Homo sapiens: one gene and its partner. The protein of the gene in region 2 purifies or fractionates together with the protein of the main gene of each other region. This does not show direct contact. Each region holds a gene or a part of one and is shown on either strand. Other genes may lie near its edges.

What was found. The genes of interacting proteins can lie anywhere in the genome.
Region 1: the proteins of CELF5 (region 2) and IARS2 purify together in Homo sapiens (affinity purification with mass spectrometry; 2 studies listed by BioGRID and IntAct, with this or other methods). This does not show direct contact.

The regions. Positions count from the first base shown.
Region 1 is NC_000001.11:220,097,132-220,100,631, reverse strand, and holds part of IARS2 (isoleucine--tRNA ligase, mitochondrial precursor), read right to left. Parts: intron 143-3,500; coding exon 1-142.
Region 2 is NC_000019.10:3,276,661-3,280,160, reverse strand, and holds part of CELF5 (CUGBP Elav-like family member 5), read right to left. Parts: intron 2,131-3,500; coding exon 2,051-2,130; intron 1-2,050. UniProt on the Homo sapiens protein: RNA-binding protein implicated in the regulation of pre-mRNA alternative splicing. Mediates exon inclusion and/or exclusion in pre-mRNA that are subject to tissue-specific and developmentally regulated alternative splicing.

The DNA.
Region 1 (3,500 bases), on a different chromosome or scaffold from region 2:
TAGCTGAAAGATTCTGAGCTTCTCTACCAAGTTCTGATAATACTTTTATTTCAATGGGCAACCCATGACAATCCCAGCCGGGCACAAAATGTATTTTGGAGCCATTCATCATATGGAATCGATTGGCTATGTCTTTCAAAATCTGCAAAGATAAAATGATAATTATCATTCATACATAAAATATTTGGCCATGTATTTCAAAATCTGCAAAGATAAAATGATAATTAGCATTCATACATAAAATATTTGGCCTACAATTTATGTTCTTTTTTTTAAACTTAATACCATTTTTAAAACTGCAATTTGAAAGGAAACGTATAAATTAACTCATAAAAAAACTATTGACACAAATAGTCTAATATTATTTATATTGAGCTAAGAAATATCATCAAACCATTGCAGAACTTACAGTGTACTCAGAGAATGGAATATTGTGGTTAACTCTGTCATTGACAAACCCTTACTAAAACAGTAGACCTCTTCATTAGGTATAGTTCTAGAACCAATTTACCTTTTTAAATTCATTTTAGATACCAGAGGGCAGCAGAGCCTTTTAAAAAATATATTACTATAGTTGAATGGAGGAATCAAAGGCAAAGGATAGATTTGGCTCCAAGCTCAATTTCCTTCTTCCCAAGAGGAAACAGTGCTCTGACCACTAGCCCAGTAGTCCAGAAAACAATTTCCTCCTTTCCATGCCTATCAAAAGTAGAAAAGATATTATTATATTCTCCTCCCATCCCTTCCCCCCTTTAAAAACTCTAATTTCAAACTGTTTACTAATGAACAGGAAGGAGCCTTGTGATCTGAGTGGTTGTCACATTAAAAAAAATTCATCTAGCTATACATACTTAAGATTGGTTCACTTTACTCTGGGTATATTATTTAAATCAATCATCATATAAATAACCTCCTTTCTACTTAACTCTTTGGAAATTGTTTACTTATTTTTTTGTCTCTTCCCTGTAAAACATAAACTCCATGAAATCAGAGAGCCCATCTGTCCTCTTCACCTATGAATTCCAGCCTTTCGAATGGTTTCTGGCACTAGTCTATAAATATTTATCAAATACATGAATACATGGATGCATATATGCTCTAAACAATGGTATCTTATATAGTAGCCACTGGCCACATGTGATTTTTGGTGCTAGTCCGAATTCAGATGTAATGTAAATTATAAAATATATACCTGATTTCAAACATGTTTTACGAAAATGTGATATATCTCAAAAATGTTTTACATCGACTGTATGTTGAAATGATACTTTAGATATGTTGAGTTAAATGTAATATTAAAATTAATTTCACTTGTTTCTTTTCATTATTTTCTGGGGCCACTAGAAAAATTTTAACTTACCTATGTGGCACAAATTTATAGCTTGCATTATATTTATTTCTTTTTTTTTTTTTTTTTTTTGAGACGGAGTCTCGCTCTGTCGCCCAAGCTGGAGAACAGTGGTACAATCTCGGCTCACTGCAACCTCTGCCTCCCAGGTTCAAGTGATTCTCCTGCCTCAGCCTCCTAAGTAGCTGGATTACAGGCACATGCCACCATGCCCAGCTAATTTTTTTGTATTTTCAGTAGAGAGGGGGTTTTACCATGTTGGTCAGGCTGGTCTCGAACTCCTGACCTGATGATCTGCCCGCCTCAGCCTCCCAAAGTGCTGGGATTACAGGCCAGACCCACCACGCCCAGCCGCTTGCATTGTATTTCTACTGAATAGTGTTGCTTTCAGTCATATGAACAGGATGAAATCAATCACTGGAACTAATAATTAACAGTGTACCTAATAAGGATTCTTAAATGTAATAATAAAATATAATATATGAAGCCTCTAGTGAAAAGAATAGTAGCAATATCATAGGAATATTTTACTAACTCCTCAGTATCAAACACCACCCTCCTTCTCCCCAAAAAAAGTTCCTCCATACTTTTAAGAGTCATTTATCTCTGTTCCTTTCATTTTTCTAATATTCATGCATTGCTTTGTTTGAGGGATAAATATCTGAATGCCTACTGTATGTCAAGAATTTTTCTAGGAACCTAGAATATAGTAGTAAACAAAAACGACAAGGTCTTTTTTCTCATGGAGGAACACAGAATATATACCAACATATCACACACTATGGAGAAAAAAGCAAATTATAGGGTTAGAAAATGACATTTAGGGGCTGGGGGTGGTACCATTTTAGAGGGAAGTCAAGAGAGCCTGGTAAGATGACATTTGAACAGAATCTGAAAGAAATGAGGAGGTGATCCATGTGAATATTCTGGTGATGCATTCTAGGAAGAGGAGAAAGCAAGCAAGACTATAATTAGCATGTGTGAGGAAGAGCAAGAATTGGTCCTTCCCTAGTTCCAAAGTGCCCATGCTCTTTGCTAAGGGCTTCAAGAAGGTTTCTCTTCATGTGAGAGATAGTTTTGTAAGATGCCACTGTTTTGGCCGGGTGCAGTGGCTCACGCCTGTAATCCCAGCACTTTGGGAGGCCGAGGCGGGTGGATCATGAGGTCAGGAGATGGAGACCATCCTGGCTAACATGGTGAAACCACGTCTCTACTAAAAAATAATACTAATAATACAAAAAATTAGCTGGGCATGGTGGCAGGCACCTGTGGTCCCAGCTACTCGGGAGACTGAGGCAGGAGAATGGCGTGAACCCGGGAGACGGAGCTTGCAGTGAGCCGAGACTGCGCCACTGCACTCCAGCCTGGGTGACAGCGTGAGACTCTGTCTCAAAGAACAACAACAACAAAAGATGCCACTGTTTTTTATGGAATTATTCCTTTGTCCTCAATCCACATGGAGCTGGCTCCCTCTGCTGCAGCTCCAAGAGTGAACACGTGATCCACTGTAGCCATTAACATATTCTATCCCCAAGTCTGCAATGACTGATTCAGAAATAGATGTGCGACCCAAATCAGGCCAATGAGATTCAATTCCAGGACTTTTATAAGAATTATTGGGGGCCAGACGTGGTGGCTCACGCCTGTAATCCCAGCACTTTGGGAGGCAGAGGCGGGCAGATCACGAGGTCAGGAGATCGAGACCATCCTGGCTAACACAGTGAAACCCCCTCTCTACTAAAAATACAAAAAATTAGCCGGGCGTGGTGGCAGGCGCCTGTAGTCCCATCTACTTGGGAGGCTGAGGCAGGAGAATCGCTTGAACCCGGGAAGCGGAGATTGCAGTGAGCCAAGATTGCACCACTGCACTCCAGTCCGGGCGACAGTACAAGACTCTGTCTCAAAAAAAAAAAAAAAAGAAAAAAGAACTGTTGGGAAAGAGAAGGTGGAATTATGTAAGCCTGAAACTACTGGGAAATGTGCTGGGGGTCTGGGGTGGGGCAGTCACTAAAGTAGCAAAGAGTGAGAGACAGAAACCAATTCTTAATTTTATGTGAATTCCTGATCCAGCTATGCAGGTGGCTAAAACTATCTGGACTCTACAGTAAAAAAGCCAGTAAATTCTCTCTCTTTGCTTAATCCAGTTAATGTT
Region 2 (3,500 bases):
CCATCCCACTCCATGGCTGTCCAGGTGCCACAGGGCTGGGCTGAAATCCACCAACAGGCAGCCCTGGGCAGTCGAAGCAGCGGTGAGCCAGGGAGTGTCTGTCTGTGCAGTCAGGATGCTGCAACAGGTCCTGATATCGGTAACAAGAGAAGCCTGGTGGCCGGGCACAGTGGCTCATGCCTGTAATCCCAGCACTTTGGGAGGCCAAGGTGGGCAGATCACCTGAGGTCAGGAGTTCGAGATCAGCCTGACCAACATGGTGAAACCCCGTCTCTACTACAAATACAAAATTTAGCCAGGTGTGGTGGCGCGTGCCTGTAATCCCAGCTACTTGGGAGTCTGAGGCAGAAGAATCGCTTGAACTCGAGAGGTGGAGATTGCAGTGAGCTGAGATTGCCCCATTGCACTCCAACCTGGGCGACAGAGCGAGACTCTGTCTCAAAAAAATAAAAGAGAGGCCTGAGGCAGGGGCCAGGAGGCCATTCCCACCCCTCACAAACCAGCCCACACCCCGACTCTGGGGCTCAAGAAGGAAAATATCTTCCCCTTCGACCAGCTCCTCCCTGGTGAGCTGGCTCCCACAGGATGCACCCTGTTGCCTCCCTGTCTTCGCTGACATGCCTCCTCCGATAGAGAACTCACTCCTCCAGACGCCTACCAGCCCTGTCCTGGGACATCTCTGAGCTTGGGAACACTTGCCCTTGTGCTGAACTAAGCCCCTCCCCTGGGTTTTAAGAGCTGAGAGAGGTGGCTTGTTCCTCTCAGGTCCCATCTTCCTTGTAGCAGATTCGGAGATGTGGGTGCAGGAACAATGGCTTCTGGGGACTCCTTCCTCGGGGGAAGGGCAGTCCCCAGTGCCTCCTTGGTCCTCCCCAGCCTCTCACTGCTGCAGACTCTGGGACCTGTCCCCAATCCCCACCCCTCCCTCAACCAGTGAGTCAACAGGCCCCCCATCCATTCTCACCCTAATGTCTGTTTTCTGATCAGCCCTCCTCCCTGTCCACCTGGCCCCAGCTCAGGCCTCCTCCTACCTCAGCTGGACCTTGGCCTAGCCTCCTCTTTGGCCTCCCAGCCTCTAGTCTTGCACCCTGCCCATCCTCTACATTAGCCCCAAAGGGATATTTGCAACCGACCTGGCCTGTCTCCTCCCTTGCTCTAAACCGTCTGTGGCTCCCCACTGCCCTAGGAGAAAGTCCAGGCTTCTCAGCCTCGCATTGCGGCCCCATCTTCTATGGCTCCTCTGGGCTACCTGTTGCCACCTCCCAGCCTTTCTTTTTGTCAGGGCCTCTCCTGGCCTCAGCAAATCCAACCCAGGTGTCATCCCCTTAGGATACCCTTACATGTACACACATACACACTCACCCACTCACAACCTATACTCACACAGACCTGCATATACTCACAAACGTGTACACAATCACCCACAATACTGACACACTCACAGTCATGCACACACACAAACACACACACACACACACACAAACCTGCCCACAAATGCACCTGCAGATGCACACACATGTGCTTCCTCCCCCGTGGCCCAGGCATACTCACACACACGCTCACACACATAGAAACACACATGTACACTCTCATACACGCACACGCACTAGTATCTCTACACTAGCACACAATGGCACACTTATCCATACATATTTACGCACACCCCTCGTGCACACAGCACTCACATAACACTCGCCTACTAGTAATGACACACTCAAACACGCACTCACACACACACATGCATGCAGTCTCGGGCACACTCACACCCAGACATGCACACTCACCCACACGCACACACTTGTAATACATCCATGCACACACATACACTTCGCTTGCCTACTCACCTCCACATCTGCACACACTCACACGTGTATACCCACTCCAGGGACCACAGCCAGGGACTGCGCCTCTTTCTCCACCTGTGCCCCCTCTGAAGGACAGCCAGGGGCTACCGGATGACAGCGACGGTAGGAATATGGCCTGTTTCATCCCTGTCCCCCTCACCCCTTTCCCACCCCCACCCCCACGGCCAAGGGCAGCTCCAACTCACCGGCATGGTCTGGCTCCCATGCAAGGCGTGGATGGCCGCCTGCGCCTCCGTGTGGGAGGAGAACTTCACGAAAGCACAGCCTGCTCCAAGAGAAGAAGAAGAGGTAGAGGGTGATGGGGTCACAGGACTGGCTGAGCGGGGGCCACAGGAGAGGGGACACAGAGACCTACATGGCCAGTGTCAGACACATGCAGCCAGAGAGAACTGATAACAGAAAGACAGCCAGCCGTTTGCTCAGACGGACAGCTGGACAATCAGCCAGATCAAGGGTCAGAATGGAGGAGAATCACACAGACAGACAGCCACAGTTAGACAAAGACCTGGTCACCCACACAGCCAGCCAGGCTAATGCAGACAGACAGCCACACACACAGAGACCACCAGACACAGGTGAATGGAAACACAGTCCCACCGACAAAGTCCATAGAACATACAGAGGCCACTGCACCTGGCTCCAGACTGGTAGAGTACTATGGAAGGGCCAGCCATATTGTGGAGGGAGGGGGTGGAATGTTCTGGAATTACATAGTGGTGATGGTTGCACGGTTTTATGAATAGAAAAAAAAAGCACTTCATTGTACATTTTTAAAGGGTGAATTTGGTAGGATGTGGAAGACATCTCAATTTTTTTCTTTTTTTGAGTCAGAGTCTTGCTCCGTCACCCAGGCTAGAGTGCAGTGGCGTGATCTCGGCTCACTGCAACATCTGCCTCCCGGGTTCAAGCAATGCTCTTCCTCAACCTCCCGAGTAGTTGGGATTACAGGCGCCTGCCACCACGCCCAGCTAATTTTTGTATTTTTTGTAGAGACGGGTTTCACCATCTTGGCCAGGCTGGTCTTGAACTCCTGATCTCGTGATCCACCTGCCTCAGCCTCCCAAAGTGCTGGGATTACAGGCGTGAGCCACCACGCCCAGCCCTCAATTTTAAAAAGGAAGAACCAGGTAATGGTCTGAAACCGTCAGACACATTCAGTTCTAGTAAGGTAAGAAAGACCAGAGTGGAGTCGGTCCCACATGATGAGCTCTGTGGACAGAGACCGCCAGACACCGTCATTTGGACTCTCAGGCAGGAAGATAGACAGACAGACACAACCAGAGACCACCAGTCAGTCATATGGACAAATCACATAGACAGAACCAGGAGGAAACAGTTTTACGAATAGTCAGGTGGAGGAATCTGAGACCACAGGGCACAGGTAACTCTGTCCGTGGAGAAGCCCCGCCCCTCCCCAGACCCCGCCCCATCACAAGCCACGCCCCTGCATCCCTACTCACAGGCAGCACCTGGAGAAGCCCCCCCGCCTCCCACCAGACACCGCCTCATCCCAAGGTACTGCCCCTGCATCCCCATCCATAAGCAGCCCCTGGAGAAGCCTTGCCCTTCCCCAAGGCCACGCCTCTGCATCTCCGCCCACCCCACCGCAGCCCCGCCCCTCTTCAGGGCCCGTCC